Linked DNA regions of Homo sapiens. The protein of the gene in region 3 interacts with the protein of the main gene of each other region in a biochemical or structural test. Each region holds a gene or a part of one and is shown on either strand. Other genes may lie near its edges.

Region 1 (3,500 bases), on a different chromosome or scaffold from region 3:
GTGGCTCACACCTGTAATCCTAGCACTTTGGGAGGCTGAGGCAGGTGGATCACCTGAGGTCAGGAGTTTGAGACCAGCCTGGTCAACGTGGTGAAACCCCATCTCTACTAAAAATATAAAAAATTTTAGCCAGGCATGGTGGCTTATGCCTGTAATCCGTGCTACTCGGGAGGCTGAGGCAGGAGAATTGTTGGAACCCGGGAGGTGGATGTTGCAGTGAGCCGAGGTTGCACCACTGTACTCCAGCCTGGGTAACAAAAGTGAAAACTCTGTCTCAAAAAAAAAGAAAAAGAAAAAAAAAAAGGGTGGTGGGACACCATTGAAGGCTTAAAACAGAAAGTGACAAGCAAAGATTCTTTTTCTAAATAAAAGGTTACCCTGGCTACTCTGTAGAGAATAGAGAGTCACAAAGAAGGGACCAGTAAGGAAGTGTTTGTCTCCCTTCTTGAGAAGGATCATCGCAGATAGGGCAGGATATGGCAGTGGACATAGAACGGGATAGTTGCAGGATGCATTTAAAAAGTAGAACCAGGCTGGGCATGGTGGCTCACGCCTGTAATCCCAGCACTTTGGGAGGCTGAAGTGGGCAGATCACCTGAGGTCAGGAGTTTGAGACCAGCCTGACCAACATGGAGAAATCCCGTCTCTACTAAAAATACAAAATTAGCCGGGCGTGGTGGTGCATGCCTGTAATCCCAGCTACTCAGAAGGCTGAGGCAGGAGAATCATTTGAACCCAGGAGGCGGAGGTTGTGGTGAGCCGAGATCATGCCACTGCATTCCAGCCTGGGCAACAGAGCAAAACTTTGTCTCAAAAAAAAAAAAAAAAAAAAGTAGAAGTAAAATTCACTAGAGAAGGAAAGGAAGAAGGAAGAGTATGGAGTACAGAACCCTAGGGCCTATGTAGGGGGCAAAAGAAGGAACCAGGGAAGGAAAATAAGGGAGCAAGAGTGGTCATTGATGTCAAAGGTAAGTCAGGCTACCACGCTTGCAGTGGGAGCCAGTGTGGGAGAAGGAGTCTGTAAGGGGAATTCAAGTGTATCCAGAGTAAGTGTGCTGTCTGATGTGTGGCAAGTCAATACCCAAGACCTGGGGGCGGGGTTTATTTGTTGGGCTGCAGAATGAGGAGATGAGAGGGAACTGCAAATCCGTCCTCCTGAGGAGTTTGGAGCTAGGGTTTTTAAGGATTTTGGAGTGGGCTGGAATGTGGAGATTGTTGGGTGGTCAGAGAGAGAAAGGTGAAGTAATGGGACCCGGAGATGAAAAAACTGTATTATGCTGATTTTATTTCTCTCTGAGGGTCTTCAAACTGGTTGGCATCAGCTGTTTTACCAGAATTTGGGATCTGAAAAATATCTCAAGCAATTCTTAAAAAAAAAGCCTTATGCTTCTAATGTCAGAGATACTATCTTTAGAAACAATAGGGATGCAAATGGTCAGTATCTAGCGCTGTGTGACTTTCAGTTACAAGGAAATGTGTCAAAATCCAGCCTGATTAATGTTTTTTTTTTGTTTGTTTGTTTGTTTGTTTTTTTTTGAGATGGAGTTTTGCTCTTGTGGCCCAGGCTGGAGTGCAATGGCATGATCTCGGCTCACTGCAACCTCTGCCTCCTGGGTTCAAGTGATTCTCCTGCCTCAGCCTCCTGAGTAGCTAGACTACAGGTGTGTGCCACCACACCTGGCTAATTTTGTATTTTTAGTAGAGATGGGTTTTCACCGTTTTGGCCAGGCTGGTCTCAAACTCCTGACCTCAGGTGATCCGCCCACCTTGGCCTCCCAAAGTGCTGGGATTACAGGTGAGCCATCGCACCTGGCCTAATGCTTAATTAAAGTTATATTTCTGTCCATAGTTCTTGGTAACCCTCTGAAGACAGCTTCATAATGAAGAATTTGGGTAGGTTTTGGGTGCATGGGGCTTCAGGGAGTCATGAAGGTTGAGGACATAGGAAAGAATCACACATTTATCCATCAGAAGATCATTGGTGACCATTGGCCGGGCGCTGTGGCTCACGCCTGTAATCCCAGCACTTTGGGAGGCCGAGGCAAGTGGATCACGAGGTCAGGAGATCGAGACCATCTTGGCTAACACGGTGAAACCCCGTGTCTACTAAAAATACAAAAAAATTGGCCAGGCGTGCTGGTGGGCACCCGTAGTCCCAGCTACTCAGGAGGCTGAGGCAGGAGAATGGCGTGAACCCGGGAGGTGGAGCTTGCAGTGAGCCAAAATCGCGCCACTGCACTCCAGCCTGGGCAACAAAGCAAGACTCAATCTCAAAAAAAAAAAAAAAGCTGTTGGATCGGTGTTTACTAAGCACCTACTCTAAGCCTGTCACTGTGTTAGTGTTAAGGATTTGTGTGAATGACCTCTTTTAGGTACTTCATTTTACAGATGAGAAAAATGACGCTTAGGGAATTAATCACCTTAACAGGTCACACAGAAAGAAGACTATGAGTTCTGTCTGACCCAGGCCCCATGCTCCTAAACCTTGCATGACACTGCTCTTTGGAAAGCCCTATCAGGACATCAGCTAGAGAGGAATGAAAGGTTTTTAGAGCCCAGTGATGGCTTACCCCAGCTGTATGAATTTGTTAGCAACCCAGTTAAATAAAGTCTTCTGATTTTTCTATAGTAATCTGGCAGTTTAGGAATGGAGAGGTGGGGGAGGGAGGGGAAGATAAAAGATAGAGTAAGAGTTCAGTAAATTAGAAAGGGGATTATTTTGTTGTTCATAAGTGTAATGATTGGATTTTCATGCACATGTATGAGATGTGCCTCCATCAAGCCTTGTTACTACAAAGTCAGTGCATTACCCATCTGATGTGGGAAAAATAAATCAGAAAGAGGCCTCAGCTTGTGGGAATGGTGGAATGCAATGGCTTGTGTTGTTAAGCAAAATTGTGTTTTACAGTAAATATTTATTGTGGTTCTTTTGATGCAAGTTATATTGGGATATGGAGGAAAATGCAAAAATGGATAAGATGGTGTATTTGACCTCTACACGGTTAGAGAGGAAGGTAAAGTGCTTCACTATAGTGCTTGATTGAAGGGTATGACAGGGGTGGAAGGTGGAGAAGTATGGGAAAGTATTATACAAGTTAGCTTGTAGAGCGAGGGTGGCATTAGGTAGGGCTGGCCAGGGTGGTGCCAATCTAGCTTCTCAGGATGACCCCTCAGGATTTTGGTCACTGTGTCGTCAGTCTAGTCTTGGGTCACAAAATGTATTTTGTGGAGAACCTGGAAATAATTAGTCTTGAAGACAGGATTGTATTCAGACTTGAGTGATTGAGCTCAGAATGGAATGCCAATTTATTATTTTAGAATGAAGGATTCCTTTTCCGTTAACGGGATTCTGGAATTTGTTAGGATAATTGCTTTTCAATATCAAGAGATCTGGCAATCAAATTTAATAATATCAAGCTTGCTTGGTGAGCATGGATTTATAAGATAGAATGGTTTGTGGGGGAGAATATAGTTACAAAAAAGATTATTGTTTCCCATAA
Region 2 (3,500 bases), on a different chromosome or scaffold from region 3:
AACTTATAGCTTGTTGCTCTTGGTTCCAAGGAAGGGCATTTGTGACATTTTATTAAATTCATTAATTTTTTAGACACACCATTGTCAGCTTGAACAAATTTATTAATTGTAATTATTTGTCAGCTGTTCTTGATCCTGTTAATACCATACTTATAACTAAAAGCATTTCCATGGATGTTGTAACTTGGCCTGTAAAAAAAATGTTTAGATAGAAACCATGAAACTCAAATATGAATTGTTTAATTTTCAAACCATTTTGCATTCAGAAAATGTCCTAAGCTTAATTCATACTCCTAGTGATCAAGGAAACATGTTAAAGCTCCTTATTTTTAAACTTAAAGTGACAATGACATTTTCAAAGATTTTAAAATTCTTATAAACAGGTTAAAATACTTATATACTGTATAATTTGATTTCTGATTTCTAAGCTCTACTTTTCTATTGGAAATTACAGATTTTTTTCAGACTTAATTCTTAAGATGTTTTCATTGTTTCACAGTAGCAACTAAACATGTAGTAAAATGATTTAAATTCAATTAAAATTTTTTTCCTTAGTCATTTAAAAGGGAAGAAATCAATTTTTAGTAGTACTCATTCCAAAGATTCCAATTTTCCTTTTTTTTAATCTTTTATTTTTTGGTGGAGGGAGGCAGGATCTGGCTCTGAGGCCCAGGCTGGAGTGTAGTGGTTCTGTCTCGGCTCACTGCAACCTCCACCTCCCAGGCTGAAGACTCAAACCATCCCCATGCATCACCCTCTCAAGTAGCTGAGACTATAGGCACATGCTACCACACCCAGCTTATTTTTTGTGTTTTTGTAGAGATGGGGTTTCTCCATCTTGCCCAGGCTGGTCTTGAACTCCTGAGCTCAAGTGATCTGCCTGCCTCAGCCTCCCCAAAGTGCTGGGATTACAGGTGTGAACTACCACACCGGGCCCCAATTTTCCAATGAGTGATATAAAAAAGGCCTCCACGCAGGCGCCTGTAGTCCCAACTACTCCGGAGGCTGAGGCCAGAGAATGGCATGAACCCGGGAGGCGGAGCTTGCACTAAGCTGAGTGCTGCTGCACTCCAGCTTGGGCGACAGAGCGAGACCGTCTCAAAAAAAAAAAAAAAAAAAAAAGCCTCCATGATTGGGGCTTGCATAGTGAAGACCATGTGAAATTGAAAGACTACGAAACTACTTTTCTTTTACGTATTGGCCCATAATTAACATGTGTATTGAATAGCTTTGTTTATCTAAGTTCATCAGATTTATCCAGGTTTATGTATTTCAGATCATCTGATTTTATTAGGAAAATGCTAGAAAAATTTCATGGCACCATTGTCTAATTTTGAAAAAACGAACCTTTCTTTACTGTGATTAAAAATTGTTTTTTAGGCCAGGTGTGGTGGCTCACGCCTGTAATCCCAGCACTTTGGGAGGCTGAGGCTGGCAGATCACGAGGTCAAGAGGTTGAGACCATCCTGGCAAACATGGTGAAACCCCTTCTCTACTAAAAATACAAAAATTAGCTGGCGTGGTGGTGCACACCTGTAGTCCTAGCTACTCAGGAGGCTGAGGCAGGAGAATTGTTTGAACCTAGGAGGCAGAGGTTGCAGTGAGCTGAGATCGTGCCACTCCAGCCCACCCTGGGTAACAGAGCGAGACTCCATCTCAAGGAAAAAAATGAAAAATTGTTTTCAAAAATAGTACGTGTGGTACAGATATAAGTAATTATATTTTTATAAATGAAACACTTTGGAAATGTAGCCATTTTTTGTTTTTTTATGTTTATTTTTCAGCTATGGGTGGATAAAGCATGAATATAACTTTTCTTATGTGTTAGTAGAAAATTAGAAAGCTTGAATTTAATTAACGTATTTTTCTACCCGATGCCACCAAATTACTTACTACTTTATTCCTTTGGCTTCATAAAATTACATATCACCATTCACCCCAATTTATAGCAGATATATGTGGACATTGTTTTCTCAAGTGCTAATATAATAGAAATCAATGTTGCATGCCTAATTACATATATTTTAAATGTTTTATATGCATAATTATTTTAAGTTTATATTTGTATTATTCATCAGTCCTTAATAAAATACAAAAGTAATGTATTTTTAAAAATCATTTCTTATAGGTATGTTCACATACGATGAATCTACAAAATTGTTTTGGTTTAATCCATCTTCTTTTGAAACTGAGGGTCAGTTTACTCTGATTGGCATAGTACTGGGTCTGGCTATTTACAATAACTGTATACTGGATGTACATTTTCCCATGGTTGTCTACAGGAAGCTAATGGGGAAAAAAGGAACTTTTCGTGACTTGGGAGACTCTCACCCAGTAAGTTCTTTGTCATTTTTTTAATTCAGTCTCTTAGATTTTATTTAAATGCAAAAATTTAATTTATGTCAAAATTTTAAAGTTTTTGTTTAGAATCTTTGTTGATACTCTTATCAATAAGATAAAAATGTTTTAATCTGACCGAAGTACCAGAAACACTTAAAAACTCAAAGGGGGACATTTTTATATATTGCTGTCAGCACGAAGCTTTTGTAAGATTGATTTCATAGAGAAGTGTTTCTAAACATTTTGTTTGTGTTTTAGTGAAATCTTAAGAGATAGGTAAAAATCAGAGTAGCCCTGGCTAAGGGTCTTGGTAGTTACAACGAGTGTGCCTGCTCCTACCACCCCCACCCCCACCTTGAGACACCACAGAATTTCTCATAGAGCACAGTGTGAATTCTATTGCTAAATTGGTGGTATGGGGTTTCTCAGCAGAGAATGGGACATCACAGTGACTGACAATCTTTCTTTTATAGGTTGGAAACTATTTGGGGGACTGGAGGGATACTGTCTACACTTTTTACAATTTTTATTGATAAGATTTTTGTTGTCTTCTAAGAAGAGTGATATAAATTATTTGTTGTATTTTGTAGTTCTATGGTGGCCTCAATTTACCATTTCTGGTTGCTAGGTTCTATATCAGAGTTTAAAAGATTTATTGGAGTATGAAGGGAATGTGGAAGATGACATGATGATCACTTTCCAGATATCACAGACAGATCTTTTTGGTAACCCAATGATGTATGATCTAAAGGAAAATGGTGATAAAATTCCAATTACAAATGAAAACAGGAAGGTAATAAATGTTTTTATGTCACATTTTGTCTCTTCATTAACACTTTCAAAGCATGTATGCTTATAATTTTTAAAGAAGTATCTAATATAGTCTGTACAAAAAAAAAACAAGTAACTAAGTTTATGTAAATGCTAGAGTCCACTTTTCTAAATCTTGGATATAAGTTGGTATGAAAGCACACAGTTGGGCACTAAAGCCCCTTTTAGAGAAAGAGGACATGAAGCAGGAGATAGTTAATAGCTAAGTGTGGTTGTAGTATAAAGCAAGAAGCAGGGTGTTTCTTGTATTAAGCTGTAAGCAGGAACCTCATGATTAAGGTCTTTATCACAGAACAAATAAAAATTACATTTAATTTACACATGTATAT
Region 3 (3,500 bases):
AGGCTGGAGTGCAATGGCGTGATCTCGGCTAACTGCAACCTCTGCCCCCTGGGTTCAAGCAATTCTCCTGCCTCAGCCTCCCTAGTAGCTGGGATTACAGGTGTATGCCACCACGCCCAGCTGATTTTTGTATTTTTAGTAGAGGCAGGGTTTCACCATGTTGGTCAGGCTGGTCTCGAACTCCTGACCTTTGGTGATCTGCCCACCTCGGCCTCCCAAAGTGCTGGAACTACAGGTGTGAGTCACCGCGCCTGTCCTATCTGTTGTTTTAAGCTCTGAAAATACTTGTCTGATAATGTTTTCTTCCAATTAAAAAAAGGCATGGAAAAGTTACCATGATGTTTCAGAAATATATGTACCTCCAGGTGGGGGCAGGGAAACTTAGCCAGGTATGGTGGTTCATGCAGTAATCCTAACAGAAGACTGAGGCAGGAAGATCCCTTGAATCCAGGAGGCCGGGGCTGCAGTGAGCTATTAGTGGCACCACTGCACCCCAGCCTGGGTAATAGAGGCAAGACCCTGTCTCTTAAATAAATAAATAAATAAATAAATAAATACAAACTCATTATGATGAAGACAGATTTGTTATAAGTTGTAATTAAAATCACCTTTGGAATTTAAGAAAAAACTTGTAAAAAATTTGACTAGGAACAGTGGTTCTTTAGTTCTTTCAGTTGTCTCACTTAAGAATTTTCTGACCTCTTCCTAGGAAAAAAAGCTATTTTTTTTAACGTATGACTTCTGGGGATTCAGATTCTTGCCAAGTTTATTTGTGGATTCCCTAGGTCTCCATGTGCTCCATGTTAAGAATCCTTGAACTGCTTTTGATAGTGATTAAACTTTCAGGCTCTAAAGATACTGTTTTAATATACTATCTAATGTTTTGATTATGAAATGTGAGCATAACTGAAAGTAAGTTAAAAATAGCAGTCAGTTCAGTATTCTTTTTTAAGCTCCTCTGTGTCAAGCAGTTCCTTTAGTCCAGATTGATCAACTCCTGCACAAGTGAAATTAAGTTTTGTCAAATTATCAAGTACTTTAGTATTCACTGTGCTAAATGACTGTGACTGGAAATGTTATGCATTTGCTTTGCTCAAGTTTGGAATTTTTTCCACACGTGTTAATGACCACTCTTAAAACCAGAGTTTTTTTTTGTTGAGACGGAGTCTCGCTCTGTCGCCAGGCTGGAGTGCAGTGGCACGAACTCGGCTAACTGCAATCTCCACCTCCCAGGTTCAAGCGATTCTCCTGCCTCAGCCTCCCGAGTAGCTGGAATTACAGGCACGCGCCACCACACCCAGCTAATTTTTTTTTATTTTTAGTAGAGACGGGTTTCACCATGTTGGCCAGGATGGTTTCAATCTCCTGACCTCGTGATCCACCCACCTCGGCCTCCTAAAGTGCTGGGACTACGGGAGTGAGCCACCAGAGTTTTACACATTAGAGAACATCTGTTCTATCCTTTTCTTTCTCTGGTGAGGAATTTGTAGGCCAAAGAAGTTGGATGACCAGATTCCTGATGTACAATTCGGTTCTTCTTCTTTTTTCCCTATACCTTATAGGATAGTTTACCTGTGTAAATGGATTTAAGAAGAAAATATGCTACAGATTCAAGTTGTATGGATTCTGAACACACATTATGTTTTCTGTTATAATGAACTATGGATGCATATGTGCTATAGAAATAAATACTAGAAACAAGGAAATGAGGACAGCAGCATCCAGCAGGGGCTTTTGACATTACAATTATAGTAATCAGAGTTCTGATTTAGGTGCCAAATTCGTATCTTATACAGTGCTGCTTTCTAAAAACAAAATAAATATGAGAGGCATAGTTTATGTAATAATATTATATCAAGGAAAAGAATTCTTATGTGTGTATGCGAAAAACGAGTTGGACTGTTGTTTCATTAGAGTTGAAATTTTCTTTGCAAATGTAATATATGAAGGAATGAATGTGGATATACCAATTAGGCAATTAAATAATAGGGAATCTTTTAACTTCAGCTAAAATCTTAGCAGCTTTTAAAATTTCTTCCCAAGTGAAGTGATTGATGGCCCTAGGGTCTTTTGTGGCAGAAACATGACTGTGTGGTTGGAAGAACTGGATAATTGGTTAAGAGCCCTCAGAATCAACAGAAATACTTCATTATTATTCATTCTTTCAAGGGCTACATGACACCATTGGGGGCATTTTATATTTTTTAAAAATCCTGGCCAGGCGCGGTGGCTCACGCCTGTAATCCCAGCACTTTGGGAGGCCGAGGCAGGAGGATCACAAGGTCAGGAGATCGAGACCATCCTGGCTAACATGGTGAAACCCCGTCTCTACTAAAAATACAAAAAAATTAGCTGGGCGTGGTGGTGGGTGCCTGTAGTCCCAGCTAGTCGGGAGGCTGAGGCAGGAGAATGGTGTGAACCCGGGAGCAGCAGAGCTTGCAGTGAGCGGAGATCACCCCACTGCACTCCAGCCTGGGCAACAGAGCAAGACTCCGTCTCAAAAAAAAAAAAAAACCTGAATGAAGCTATTCTAAAATTTCTTGAGTACTTAGGCACAGACATTTTTGGTTTTGAATTGGCCAGTAACTGAGATGCTTCTGAATAATTAGGATTCTACTGTAATTTAAAGTAATTTTAGATACTGGTTTCAGAATCTAAGGTTGACATATTTTGCATTAAAACAACTGGCTATGTTGTCTTTAGATTTTCAATTTTTTTTTTAGTTTTCAATACCTTCACATTATGTCTCTGTCAGTTTGGTTAATTTTGGGCAAATGAATTTATATTTTGAAAGTCTTTACAGTTCTAGGGATTGAAGGCATTGTAGTTAAGGAAACACTAGAAAGAACTAACAAATTTATATCATGAAACCATTGGTGATTTTTTTATTGCTCTGTAACTTTCTTAAGATTATAGCTTATACTCGGGAAAATGTTAGTAAGTAGCTGTTTTGTTTTGTTTTTTTTTTTTTGTGACTCTTAAAGACAACTAGATTACCATCTTACTATGAGGCAGGGACAAAGTGGTTTTAGTAACATAGGCCGATCCCAAGGCCAAATTTCAGTTTTCTGTAACCTTGTGATTTGCGTGTCTCTTTATTATCCATTCATGAGATTTTTTTTCAGTTCAATTAATTGGACATTCATTGAATGCATAATATGCATTTACCAGTAAGCCAGGTGAACAAGAAAGGCATCCCTGTGTAATGGAAAACACAGTCATGAAACAAATTTCTGTGGCCCAGGCTGGAATGCAGTGACGTGACTTGGCTCACTGCAACCTCTGCCTCCCGGGTTCAAGCAATTCTCCTGCCTCAGCCTCCTGAGTAGCTGGGATTACAGGTGCACGCCACCACACCCGGCTAATTTTGGTATTTTTAGTAGAGACAGGGTTTCACCATGTTGGTCAGGCTGGTCTCAAACTCCTGACCTCGTGATCCGCCCGCCTCAGCCTCCCAGAGTGCTGGGATTACAGGCAGGAGCCACCGCGCCCAGCCGAGG
Region 4 (3,500 bases), on a different chromosome or scaffold from region 3:
AGACTGAATCTAATCCTGCACTTTTTTCTCCTGTATTGGTTAATAGTACCACAGTTCACAAGGTTGCCCAGTAATTTATGTTGTTCCTAAGCTCTTTGCTCTCTGTAATCCTTTTACATTTAATTAATCATCAAATTTGATGGATTCCACCTTTTTAATGTTGCTTCAGACTTTCCCACTTATTCTGCTCTAGTTCAGGCCCTTCCTTGTTTTTCAACTGGACAATTGTAGTAGTCTCCTAACTGGTCTTTTGTCTGTATTATAACCTGCCAACAGAGTTTTTCTTTTTGTTTGTTTGTTTTTGTTTGTTTTGTTTTTTTGTTTTTCTGAGACGGAGTCTCGCTCCGTCACCGAGGCTGGAGTGCAGTGGCGCGATCTCGGCTCACCGCAACCTCCACCTCCGGGGGTCACGCCATTCTCCTGCCTCAGCCTCCTGAGTAGCCGGGACTACAGGCGCCCACCACTATGCCCGGGTAATTTTTTTTTTTATTTTTTGGTATTTTTTGCAGAGACGGGGTTTTGAACTCCTAGGCTCAAGCGATCTGCCCGTCTTAGCCTCCCGAAATGCTGGGACTACAGACGTGGGCCACCATGCCCAGCCTTATCTTTTATTTTTATTTTTTAATATAGATAGGGTCACACTTTGTTGACCAGGGTGGTTTCAAACTCCAGGCCTCAAGGAATCCCCCTTGGCCTCCCCAAAGTGCTGGGATTACAGGTGTGAGCCACTGCACCCAGCCTCCTCTCTTTCAAAAAACATTTATTGAGCTATAATATACATACAGTAGCCGGGCGCAGTGGCTCACGCCTGTAATCCCAGCACTTTGGGAAGTTGAGGCAGGTGGATCACGAGGTCAGGAGTTCGAGAGCAGCCTGGCCAATATAGTGAAACCCCATCTCTACTAAATATACAAAAAAATTAGCCAGGCGTGGTGGTGCATGCCTGTAATCCCAGCTACTCGAGAGGCTGAGGCAAGAGAATTGCTTGAACCTGGGAGGTGGAGGTTGCAGTGAGCCGAGACGCGCCATTACACTCCGGCCTGGGTGACAGAGCGAGACTACGTCTCAAAAAAAAAAAAAAAAAAAAAAAAAATATATATATATATATATATATGATTTTATATATATATGATTTTATATATATATGATTGTGTATATATATATGATTTTGTATATATATATGATTTTGTATATATATATGATTTTGTATATATATGATTTTGTATATATATATGATTTTGTATATATATACACACGCACACATACACACATAAAGTGCTTAAAGTACCCTAATCGTAAGTTTTCTACTTGATGAATTTTAACATATATATGTTAAAATATATATTAAATATGTGTTAAATATATATTAAAATGTATATGTTAAAATATATATATTTATCTGTGTGACTATCCCCCAGATTAAGATATAGAACATTCCCACAACCCTAGAAAGTTCTTTCATGCTCCTTCCCCATCAGTACCCACCCCCAAGTTATATTCTGGCTTCTATTACCATAGATTAATTTTGTTTATTACCATAGATTAGTTTTGAAGTTCTTATAAATGGACTCATGCAGTAGGTACTCTTTTGTGTCATAATGATGAATTATGATTATGTTTTGCTCATTATATCTATGAGATCCATCCATATTGTCTGTGGCAATAGTTTTTTTTTTTTTTCTTGCTGTGTAGCGTATGAATATACCACAATTTATGTATCTGTTCACCTGATGATGGACATTTGAGTTGTTTCCAGTTTGGGGCTATTATAAATAACACTACTATGAATACTCTTGTGCATATCTTTGGCAGAGATATACACTCATTTTTAATACCCAAGAGTGGAATTGATGAGTCAGAGGGTATAAGTGTCCTCTCCTAGCACTTCCCTACACATGCTGTGTTCCTACTTTAAGTATCATAAAAACAAGTTTCCATTGACTTTCTTGCTTTATTCAGTCCTACCCGCTCTGCTACAGAAACGAAGTTTGAGAGCTAGGAAATTGACACATTCAAGGTTATAGACTGGGACTTCCCTGATTTCCCATCATTTTCCCCAAATAATTGCTAGTGACTCAGTAACAACATCCACTCTTTAAGTAACTTAGGTTAATTGTTAATGAGTACAGCTAGATTCAAAACAGTTCAGATTTTTGAAGCACTTAACCTTTTTCTTGCCTATTTTACCTTGCATCGTTTCAAACACTACAAAATACATACTCATTGCATTTACAATTAATTGTAAGATTCTGAAAGTGATTTTTCAGTGCCTGAATACTTCAAAAAATCTTCCCAAAGCAGCTTTGCTTTGCTGGTTTGTTTTTATTCTTTCGCTTGCTCCTTAATTTTTTCATTTTAACTATATTTTGCTATTGAGTTGTGATAATGAAAATAATTGTTTAAATTCTATGTTCTTTTTCCTCACCAATTTTTATTTCAGATGATACCATCTTCCAAAATCCTATGGTACAAGAAGCTATACGAATGGGGTTCAGTTTCAAGGACATTAAGAAAATAATGGAGGAAAAAATTCAGATATCTGGGAGCAACTATAAATCACTTGAGGTTCTGGTTGCAGATCTAGTGAATGCTCAGAAAGACAGTATGCAAGATGAGTCAAGTCAGACTTCATTACAGAAAGGTATGCATTGCTGTTTTTAAAAAGCAAGAAAGGGCCAGATGTGGTGGCTCATACCTGTAATCCCAGCACTTTGGGAGGCTGGGACAGGTGGATATGGACATTTTTTAAACGTAACCTTAATGCTGTGTGTTAGTCTGCTCAAGCTGCTATAATAAAATTCCATAGACTAGGTGTCTTAAACAACAGACTTATTTCTGACAGTTTTGGAGGCTCCAAAATCAAGGTGCTGGCTGATTTGGTTATTGATGAGGGCCCTCTTCCTACCTTGCAGATGGCTGCCTTCTCACTGTGTCCTCACATGGCATGGGTTGGGATTGGATGGGACAAGATGGAGCAAGTACTCTGGTCTCTTTTCCTCTACTTTTAGGAACACTAATCCCATCATGGGGGGGTCTCATCTTCATGACCTCATCTAAACCTAATTACTTCCCAAAGGCCTCATTTCCAAATATCATTACATTAATCATGGAAAAAAGATTAAAAATATGAGTTCTACCAGCCTGGACAACATAATGAAACTGTCTCTACAAAAAATACAAAAATTAGCCGGGCATGGTGGTGTGTGCCTGTAGTCCCAGCTCCTTGGGAGGCTGAGCGGGGAAGATCACCTGAGCCAGGGAGGTCAAGGCTGCAGTGAGCCATGATCATGCCACTACACTTCGGCCTGGGCAACTGAGCAAGATCTTGTCTCAAAATATATGTATCTCTCCTTTAAGGATGATGGACACTGTAGTGCTTGCCAACAACATCGAAGGTTAAAGAAGAAGTTTCAAACTGAGTACACTTTTGGGTACTTTACCTGTAATAGTTCTCTAAGCTCTTGACCATCCTCCCTCCAAAAAGATGAGAATTCTCCTAC
Region 5 (3,500 bases), on a different chromosome or scaffold from region 3:
TTCATAGCAAACTTCAGGACTTTGAGATGTTGAAATTACATTATTTAATTACAGACTTCCTCTTTCTAAGATTTTGTGAATTGGTTGAATAGTTCTATACAAATGAAGTATGGAGGTGTGTATGTTTATATGTATATAACAAAATATTTTCATTGTGACCACTCTGAAGTAAGAGCAATGGGAATGGCATTATTGTAGAATAAGTCATTGTATTTTTAACACCAGAAAGAACCTTGCCGATCACCAGGCATAACCTAATTTTATCCATGGAAGAAACACAGAAAGGCATCTAAGTTAGAGCTGGCACCAGAACTGAGACCTCCAGAAATCTATTCCAGTATTTTTTCCACTACACAACTGCCTTCCTGACAGGTTCTGAGATAAGTGTTATGTTTGTAGATAGAGTGAAATATATTTATATATATATAAATATATACAGATACATATCTGTGTATTATCTCAAGGAATGTACAAACTTTAGTTTTTGATTATAAGGACTTCACTGCAAGTTTTAGTTAAGAGGTTTGTATATAAATCTGTTATAGAACAGGCTGAAATTTCTTGTTCATAAGATTATGAAACCACATGAGAAGTGATAAAATGTTTGTTAAAGCTAGATAGAGGTTAAGAATCAAGATATAATGGATAATTTTCATAGCTGCCTATCAGAATTTCCCAAATATTTAGCATCTTCCTTGATAATATGTATTTTCTTCTTGAATTTCACTGGCCTAATGAGATAATACTCTTATCTTTGGCTCTACCTAAAAGTTGGTTAAAAATGCAATTGGCATTAACAAGGAAAAATACTGAATTAGTAATTTTAAAAGTCTCACAAAGAAAATCCCAGGCCTAGATGGCTGCATTGTTGAATTCTGCCAAACATTAAAATTAGCACTAATTTTTTGCACACTGTTTCTAAAAGTAGGAGAGGAAAGAACACTTCCCAACTTACTCTAGGTCAGTATTACCCTGATACTAGACTAGACATCACAAGAAAACTATAAGCCAATATTCCTTATTAATACAAACACAAAAATCATTAACAAAAATATTAGCAAACTGAATCCAGCAACCTATAAAAAGGATTCTATATCATGACCAAGTGGAATTTATCCCAGGAATTCAAGGTTGGTTCAACATCTAAAAATCAAATAAGCTAATATACAGTCAGTTCTCATTATTCACAGTAATTATGTTCTACAGAATATTCTCCCATAAACACTGAATTAAATATGGAACAACTGCTTTTAGGAGAAAGTGTATTTGTGTATATGTGTGTATACATATGTTTATCTCACACACATTATGAGCTTGAATTCTTAATTCATCCTAGCAAATTCTACCTTATTTTACAGAAGTGAAAGTGAGGTATCAGAAGTGTTAAGTGACATGCCTGAGGCACCCCCCTAACAGGTGTCAGAGCTGAAATTCAAACCCCATCCAGCTGGCCCCGGAGCCAGAGCTTCTTGTACTACACAGAATTGCCCCTGCCATTTCCACCCTCCAGTCATTTCTCTATGAGACTGAAGCAGGAAGGCAGAGCATCATCTTGTTCAGCCTCAGCTGGGAACATGTGTACTGGGTGACTCAAATTTTTCACCCATTTACACATATCCACAAATGACTGCAAAAGTGCCACGGATATCAATTTGAGGGTTATAAATTTTAGCAAGTTGGTAAATTCACAAATACATAACCTTGAATAATGAGGATCAACTGTACCATATTTAATAAAGCACAAAACCCACACAGATTGTCTTATTACAGCATTTGATAAAATCCAAAACTCTTTCATAAAAACACTCAACAAACTTAGGAATAAAAGGAATCTTCCTAGATATGATAAATATAACATCTATGAAAAGCCCACACCTAACATTATACTTCATGGTGATAGACTGAAGGCTGAATGTTTTCCCCTTAAGATTGGGAAGAAGGACAAGGATGTTCACTCGGCACTACTTCTATTCAGCATTGTACTTGAAGTTCTAGCCACAGCAGTTAGGTTAGGAATTCAAGGTTTGTTCAACATCTAAAAATCAAATAAGCTAATAAAGAAAAGAGGTTTATACTGCAAAAGAAGTGAAACTATATGTATTCACAGTTGATACATAGTTGTATATAGAAAATGCTAAAGAATCCATAAAAAGTAATAAATGAGTTCAACAGGTTGCAGGATACAAGATCAGTTTTATTTCTCTACTAACAGCAAACATTCTGAAAATGAGAATAAAGAAATCCTATATACAGTAGCATCAAGAATAAAACTCCAACACGTTTAAAGAAATTAAGATCCAGATAAATGGAAAGACATCCATGTTCATGGATTGGAAGACTGAATATTGGTAAGATGGCAATGCTGCCCAAATTAGTCTACATATTCAACAATTCCTATCAAAATCCTAGCTGTATTTTTTGCAGAAATTGACAAACTGGTAAAATTGGTAGGGAAACGCAGGGGACCCAGAATAGCCAAAAAACCTTGGAAAAGAACAAAGTTGGAAGACGTACCAATTTCAAAAAGTGCTACCAAGCTACAATAAGACAGTGTAGGCATATGGATAGACATATCGATCAGAGGAATGGAACTGAACATCCAGAAATAAACCCATACATTTCTGGTCAACTTGTTTTCAACAAGGATGCCAATACCATCAATAGAGAAGGAGTGGTCTTTTCAACAAACGGTGCTGGGACAACTAACTGGTAGCTACGTGCACAGCAAAAGGATCCCTACCTTCCTACCACATTACAAATTCTAACTCAAAATGGATCATAGACCTCAATATAAGAGTTTAAACTCTTAGAAGAAAACAGAAGTAAATCTTTGTGATGTTGGGCTTAGGAATGGTTTCTTAGACATAATACCAAAAGCACAAGCAACAAAGGCAAACAGTAGATAAATGGGACTTCATCAAAATTAACTTTAGCGCCTTAAAGGACACCATTAAGAAAGTGAAGTTAACCCTCAGAATGGGAGAAAAATTTTTGAAAAATCATGTATCTGATAAAAAAACAAACAAACATGCAGGTGCTCAGCTGTGGTTACCACCGAGCAGCACTGTCCAGTGAACTTGCTGTGATGATGGGATGCTTGGTATCCGCACTCCCAGTGTGATAGCCTTTAGCCTCATGGGGTTGTTGAGCAGTTGAAATAATAGCTAGTGTGAGGAACTGAACATAAAATTTTAGTTTTAGGATGGGTGTGGTGGCTCACGCCTATAATCTCAGCACTTTGGGAGGCCAATGAAGGCGGATCACTTGAGCCCAGGAGTTCAAGACCAGCTTGACCAAGATGGCAAAACCCTGTCTCTATTAAAAATACAAAAAAATTAGCTGGGCATGGTGGCACACACCTGTAATCCCAGCTACTAGGGAGGCTGAGGCAGGAGAATCGTACTTCCCCTTTATACTCTTCTGTATATTTGATTTTTTTTTTTTTAAGACAGAGTCCTGGCTCTGTCGCCCAGGCTGGAGTGCAGCGACATAGTCTCAGC
Region 6 (2,773 bases), on a different chromosome or scaffold from region 3:
GTTAAGTAGCTCTTGGATGTGATTTCCTTCCACCCAAAAAATATGGGCAAAGCCCCCCAGAGGGAAGGTCAAAAGGATGCAGTGGGGTAATATTTCTAGCTGTATGAAGGGGTCTCCAGGCCTCCGCTGCCCTAGCCTGGTGATGCCAGCAGCAAAGAGCAAGGAACCAAAGGGCAGCCTTCCCCACGGCCTGCCTGCCAGTCACCAGTTTGAGCCAGAAAGCAGTGGAGGGGGACGACAGAATTATACTGTTGTTAATATTGTCTATATGTGAAAACTAATCTTGGGATAATATAATATTCCTTGCCCAACCCCATCCCCACCACCCAAGCAATTGAATTCTTTAAAAAACAGCTTCACAGAAAATATGGGGAAGACCAGCTTTTATAGGGCTTGCTCAACAATTTTGAGATGTGCACAGTAAGAGAACTTTAGTTCTGATCCCTTTGACAGCGGAACAGGGGGCATGGAAAACAGCGTATTTCTGGTTCAGGAAATACCCTTCATTTTATGCATGACAGCATTGATGATGAATAGAGACGGAGACTTTTAGTCTTGAATATTTCACTTGCTTTGAGCAAAAGTAGTTAAGAACACAGTTTAAGCCCAGGAAAATGGAGTAGTTAAGTACTCATAGAGGGTTGAAGCAATAGAAGTTTTGAGAAGGCCCAATGGCTCAATGCATTTCTTTCTTTGCAGTATGCCACCACGGGCTGTTCCCTGACCCTGCACCATACGGAGAAACCAGAACATGAAGACATATGTGAATACCGTCCCTACTCCTGCCCATGTCCTGGTGCTTCCTGCAAGTGGCAGGGGTCCCTGGAAGCTGTGATGTCCCATCTCATGCACGCCCACAAGAGCATTACCACCCTTCAGGGAGAAGACATCGTCTTTCTAGCTACAGACATTAACTTGCCAGGGGCTGTCGACTGGGTGATGATGCAGTCATGTTTTGGCCATCACTTCATGCTGGTGCTGGAGAAACAAGAGAAGTACGAAGGCCACCAGCAGTTTTTTGCCATCGTCCTGCTCATTGGCACCCGCAAGCAAGCCGAGAACTTTGCCTACAGACTGGAGTTGAATGGGAACCGGCGGAGATTGACCTGGGAGGCCACGCCCCGTTCGATTCATGACGGTGTGGCTGCGGCCATCATGAACAGCGACTGCCTTGTTTTCGACACAGCCATAGCACATCTTTTTGCAGATAATGGGAACCTTGGAATCAATGTTACTATTTCTACATGTTGTCCATGATGTGACTTTCGTAAACCTTCAAAATTATTTGGGCATAGTGCTCTATGTTTAATAAAGGTTTTTATAGATGTTTTATTCCATATGTCTTCACAAGTCAGGACCCACAATTACCCGTGTTTTGTTTGAACAGCAGTGTCCCATCTGGCTTCGACCCAACAAAGTTCATTAACCTGGGATGAATGGGGTTGGCCTGTTGGTGATTTGGATGCTGTTCTGTGATCTAAAACAACTCTTATTGAATTGTATTTACTCCCTAAACAACACTTGACAGGCTGTTGCACAGGGCTTCTATAGATCAGTGTGTTAGGAATGGGAGGCCCCTTCCTGCCTGCCTTCCCATATTGGTCCCTTGACATTGACAAAAGCACAGTGACTGTCAGCAGATTCCTTTACTTTTGTTTGTGGGAGGTAGGAATTGTTTTAATGCATTTTAAACAGTGTTTCTGAAATTGGATGGCTGGCTAATAGACACTGAATCACCCGGAGTGCTTATCTTAAAATTGCAGATTTAGGGAGCCTGCCAATTTAACAGTCTCATCAGGTGATTCTTTTCAACAGTAATGTTTGAGAATTACTGGGTTAAATTGTGGGAAAGGGTCCAGATTTTAAAGGTGCTTTAAGGTTGCCCTCTGCCGATACTGTTTGTCTTTCTACTGTTTCATCCCCTAACTTCCCCCAACCCTCAAATTAAAACTAGAACTATAGATCCACATGAACGCACGCCTGAGATTTGGCCACTCACCTATGTTTTGGGTGGATTGCCTAGGAAAGCAAGTCATATGGCCATTGATAGTTCTCATGTAATTAGTTTTGCTCACCACTAGTACAGATGACCCGTTTACACGTGGCTTCCCTCGGAAGCCCTCCTCAACAGTAGCTGGTGTGAAAGACTAAATCAGTAGAGTTGGAAAAGCTTTATAACCGGTGTGTCATATGCTTGCTATTTAAAGCTGTGTGTTGGTTTTGTTTTTCTGCCACATTCACTAGTTTTTTAATAAATATTTTCCAAAAATGGATATTGTGCTTCATTTCCCTAATTGAGTAATGGGTATTTATTGAGCATCTACTGTGTGCAAGTGCAATGAACCTTCGTCACTACATCTGGGGTTGGAACTTTCACTGTTTGTTTCCACTGTGGAAACAGTCATTGGGCCAAGGTCATGGCACGGGTCCATGACAGCACTGGGGTCCGGGCTCATGTGTCTGAACCACTGACTGTCAGTGCTGCAGGTCTCCTCCCAGGGCTGTCGTTTCTATCTGACAGTGCCAGTACCTGTGCAATAAGAGGATTGCTCCAGCTTTACAGAGTCAGAAGGAAGACGCTTGGCCACTGCTGACATCCAGAGTGCTGGCGTTGATCCAAGCTGACCCACTCCCTCAGTCCCAACCCTAAACTCTCAAAAGAATTTAGAGGATTAGGGCCAAATGCTCAGCAAGGATTGAAGGCTGCTTACCTCAGTGTCCCAATTTCTTTCTTTTTTTTTTTTTTTTTTTTTGAGACAGAGGCTGGAGTGCA
Region 7 (3,500 bases), on a different chromosome or scaffold from region 3:
AGGAGAAAAATTGAACAACCTCTGGGTCTCCGGGTTTTGCTTTGGCTTCCCTAAAATGATTCAAGAGCCTCATTTTTGGGGAAGTCAGTAAGCCAAGTTATCCCTGGAGAGTGAATCCTGGGAAACAGGATTTACCATTGTCAGGGTCTGGAAGAGGCAGAATAGGCCAGATATAAAATCTAATAAGGTATTATTAGAACAATGTGTGTTCTAGACAACCAGGAGGACTTCAGACAAGTTTTGCTTCTCATAGCAGCCTTGACACAGATATAACAAGGCACATAGCCCATGTGCTCATGGAATGCAGAATATCAACAGGCCATTGTTCATCCAACAAAACTGTGGTTGGCTTCTCTCCATTAGACTGCAGTAATTCTTTGAGCATCTAACAATAATTTTTTGAACATATAGGGGATTTTTTTTTTTTTTTTTGAGACACAGTCTCGCTCTGTCACCTAGGCTGGAGTGCAGTGGTGTAATCTCGGCTCACAACCTCCGCCCTACAGGTTCAACCAGTTCTCGTGCTTCAGCCTCCCAAGTAGCTACTGGCATGTGCCACCACACCTGGCTAATTTGTGTATGTGTGTGTGTGTGTGTGTGTGTGTGTGTGTGTGTGTGTGTGTGTATATATATATATATATATTTTTTTTTTTTTTGGTAGAGACGGGTGTTTCACCATGTTGGCCAGGCTGGTCTCAAATTCCTGACCTCAGGTGATCCATCCGCCTTGGCCTCCCAGAGTGCTGGTATTACAGGTGTGAGCTACCGCAAAAGCAGAATCATAATTCTGATTATGAACCATTGGATAGCTCTAGGTTTTATAGAAATGTGTTATTTGCCAGGCGCAGTGGCTCACGCCTATAATCCCAGCACTTTGAGAGGCAGAGATGGGCGAATCACTGAACACTGGGGGTTCTCGAGACCAGCCTGGCCAACATGGTGAAACCCCATCTCTACTAAAAATACAAAAATTAGCCAGCATGTTGGCAGGCACCTGTAGTCCCAGCTACTCGGGAGGCTGAGGCAAGAGAATCGCTTGAACCTGGGATGCAGAGGTTGCAGTAAGCCAAGATCGCGCCACTGCACTCCAGCCTGGGTGACAGAGTGAGACTCTGTCTCAAAAAAAAAAAGAAAAAGAAAAATAAGAAATGTGTTTTTTAAAATAGAAGAAAAAGGGGGAAAGCCTTTATTCTTAGTTTCATATACAAAAATCTTTCTAGGACAAGTGTGAGGGTAGGAAGCAGTAGGGAGGTCAGTTTGTACTGATGATGTGCGTTTAAGACAGTCAGGTCGGCCTCAGTTGGACTAGTTCCTCCTTCTTATAGTGGCATTGACATAGCAGACCAGTAGTCTGTATGGTCAGCATCTGCCTGTGTTAGATTAATAAGGCGCATGGCACATGTGCTCATGGAATAGAAATTATCCATAGGCTTTTGTTCCTATCAGCAAGTACAGGCTACAAGGACAGTAGGATGTGACAGGGATGAGAGGTGCACATTCCTTCGGGAAAGAGGCACCCTTGGGAAGTTGTGTTCAGGTGACCCCTTTGGGAGCAGGGTCTGTCTGTCTCACTCCTCTGCCTATGGAGGAAAGTGGAGTTGTCTTGTAGATGTAAATGACTCTTCCTCTGTTCTGCACAGACTTCTGCTGGATGTGTCTAGGAGATTGGAAGACTCATGGCAGTGAATACTATGAGTGCAGTCGTTACAAGGAGAATCCTGACATCGTGAACCAGAGCCAACAAGCCCAGGCGAGGGAAGCCCTCAAGAAGTACTTATTCTACTTTGAGAGGGTAGGTGTCCTCTCCTGTACCTTCCCCTACAGGGTAGGCTTCTTCCACTTGGCCTGCTGGTGGGATTCCCAGGGACTGGTAGACAGAGCTAGCCTGTGCACATAGAAGTCAGTGAATGGAGCTCCTGCAGTATCCCTGGTGCTGCCTCTATAGATGTGCCTTTCAAGCTCTATAGGGTATATCCCCAGCCAACAGGGAAGGACCTGGTACTGACCTTGGTTGAATGATGGATTGAAGGACAATGAAGGGCCATCAGACAGTCTTTTCCATCTAGTACCATCTTTTTTTTTTTTTCTTTTTTCTACGTTTTTAATTTTTATTTATTTTTTTCTTTCTGTCCTCACAATCTGTTCCCATAGTATCATCTTAGTAGTCAGATTTGGAAGGCAGTTTCTCCCAGGGAGCCCTTTAGAAGCCCAAAGAGCCCCATGCATAATGGTCTCTAAGCATAGTAGACCATCAGGGGCCTAGCTTTGCAGAGTCCTCAGGGCTCGAGTCCTGTTGCCCCAGAAGGGTAGAGCGATCTGGCAGTAAGCATACAGCTGCTCTGGACAGGTTAGAAGGATGGACTGAAGAAGACCTGCTCTTGCACTTTGGGGAATAAGTTAGAGGAGTCTGTGGCCATGTCCTGCCAGCAAGGTGTCTATCCTGAACTCCTGTGTAGACCTCTGCACCTTCATGGGACTCCTGTGGTTTTCTTCTTCTTCTGTGCCCTGTAGTGGGAAAACCACAATAAAAGCTTGCAGCTAGAGGCACAGACATACCAGCGGATTCACGAGAAGATTCAGGAGAGGGTCATGAACAATCTGGGGACATGGATCGACTGGCAGTACCTACAGAATGCTGCCAAGCTCTTGGCCAAGGTATCTACCACTTCACTCATCTTATCCCTGGTCCAGTGCCTGGCTCCGTCAGGCACAGACCTCTGATAGTGGGAAGCTCTGTTGAAAGAGGGTATTTTAGCACCCTGTGCAGCCTTTCATGCTTCTGCTTGTGGATCCACATTTTCATGTGCTGTGCCCATTAAGGACCCAGTCCTCTGATGGATGTCCAGGGGATTTATAAGAGTGTTGCACTGCCTCTGCCTGCAGGGAAAACTAGAGCACTTTTCTTCTCCTTTTGTCCTGTTTATGTATCACTCAAAGGAAAATAAAAGATTGTCTGATCACTTGAGGTCAGGAGTTTGAGACCAGCCTGGCCAACATGGTGAAATCCTGTCTCTAATAAAAATACAAAAATTAGCTGGGCATGGTGGTGCATGCCTGTAGTTCCAGCTACTTGGGAGGCTGAGGCACGAGAATTGCTTGAACCTGGGAGTCAGAGGCTGCAGTGAGCCGAGATCACACCATTGCACTCCAGCCTGGGTGACAAAGCAAGACTGTCAAAAAAAAAAAAAAAAAAAAAAAAAAGATTGGGCAGGGTGCAGTGTCTCACGCCTATGATCCCAGCACTTCGGAAGGCCAAGGCAGGTGCATTGCTTGAGCCCAGGAGTTTGAGACCAGCCTGGGCAACATGAGAAAACCCCGTCTCTACAAAAAAAATACAAACGTTCGCCTGGTGTGGTGATGCACACCTGTAGTCCTGGCTACTTGGAAGGCTGAGGTGGGAGGATCGCTTGAGTCTGGGAGGCAGAGTTTGCAGTGAGTGGGGATTGCACCACTGCACTCCAGCCTGGGCAACAGAACAAAACCTTGTTTCAAAAAAAAAA

The links.
Region 1: the proteins of UBE2N (region 3) and RFFL form a complex in vitro, tested with the Homo sapiens proteins (one study listed by BioGRID).
Region 2: the proteins of UBE2N (region 3) and UBE3A form a complex in vitro, tested with the Homo sapiens proteins (one study listed by BioGRID).
Region 4: the proteins of UBE2N (region 3) and XIAP form a complex in vitro, tested with the Homo sapiens proteins (one study listed by BioGRID).
Region 5: the proteins of UBE2N (region 3) and MALT1 form a complex in vitro, tested with the Homo sapiens proteins (one study listed by BioGRID).
Region 6: the proteins of UBE2N (region 3) and SIAH2 form a complex in vitro, tested with the Homo sapiens proteins (one study listed by BioGRID).
Region 7: the proteins of UBE2N (region 3) and ARIH2 form a complex in vitro, tested with the Homo sapiens proteins (one study listed by BioGRID).

The regions. Positions count from the first base shown.
Region 1 is NC_000017.11:35,053,708-35,057,207, reverse strand, and holds part of RFFL (E3 ubiquitin-protein ligase rififylin), read left to right. Parts: intron 1-2,713; exon of another isoform or gene 2,714-2,820; intron 2,821-3,500.
Region 2 is NC_000015.10:25,355,525-25,359,024, reverse strand, and holds part of UBE3A (ubiquitin-protein ligase E3A), read left to right. Parts: intron 1-2,128; coding exon 2,129-2,334; intron 2,335-2,968; coding exon 2,969-3,133; intron 3,134-3,500. UniProt on the Homo sapiens protein: E3 ubiquitin-protein ligase which accepts ubiquitin from an E2 ubiquitin-conjugating enzyme in the form of a thioester and transfers it to its substrates.
Region 3 is NC_000012.12:93,431,948-93,435,447, reverse strand, and holds part of UBE2N (ubiquitin-conjugating enzyme E2 N), read left to right. Parts: intron 1-3,500. UniProt on the Homo sapiens protein: The UBE2V1-UBE2N and UBE2V2-UBE2N heterodimers catalyze the synthesis of non-canonical 'Lys-63'-linked polyubiquitin chains. This type of polyubiquitination does not lead to protein degradation by the proteasome.
Region 4 is NC_000023.11:123,898,053-123,901,552, forward strand, and holds part of XIAP (E3 ubiquitin-protein ligase XIAP), read left to right. Parts: intron 1-2,440; coding exon 2,441-2,641; intron 2,642-3,500.
Region 5 is NC_000018.10:58,747,965-58,751,464, forward strand, and holds part of MALT1 (mucosa-associated lymphoid tissue lymphoma translocation protein 1), read left to right. Parts: 3' UTR 1-3,500. UniProt on the Homo sapiens protein: Protease that enhances BCL10-induced activation: acts via formation of CBM complexes that channel adaptive and innate immune signaling downstream of CARD domain-containing proteins (CARD9, CARD11 and CARD14) to activate NF-kappa-B and MAP kinase p38 pathways which stimulate expression of genes encoding pro-inflammatory cytokines and chemokines.
Region 6 is NC_000003.12:150,740,625-150,743,397, reverse strand, and holds the end of SIAH2 (E3 ubiquitin-protein ligase SIAH2), read left to right. Parts: intron 1-699; coding exon 700-1,257; 3' UTR 1,258-2,273; downstream 2,274-2,773. UniProt on the Homo sapiens protein: E3 ubiquitin-protein ligase that mediates ubiquitination and subsequent proteasomal degradation of target proteins.
Region 7 is NC_000003.12:48,977,842-48,981,341, forward strand, and holds part of ARIH2 (E3 ubiquitin-protein ligase ARIH2), read left to right. Parts: intron 1-1,640; coding exon 1,641-1,792; intron 1,793-2,511; coding exon 2,512-2,655; intron 2,656-3,500.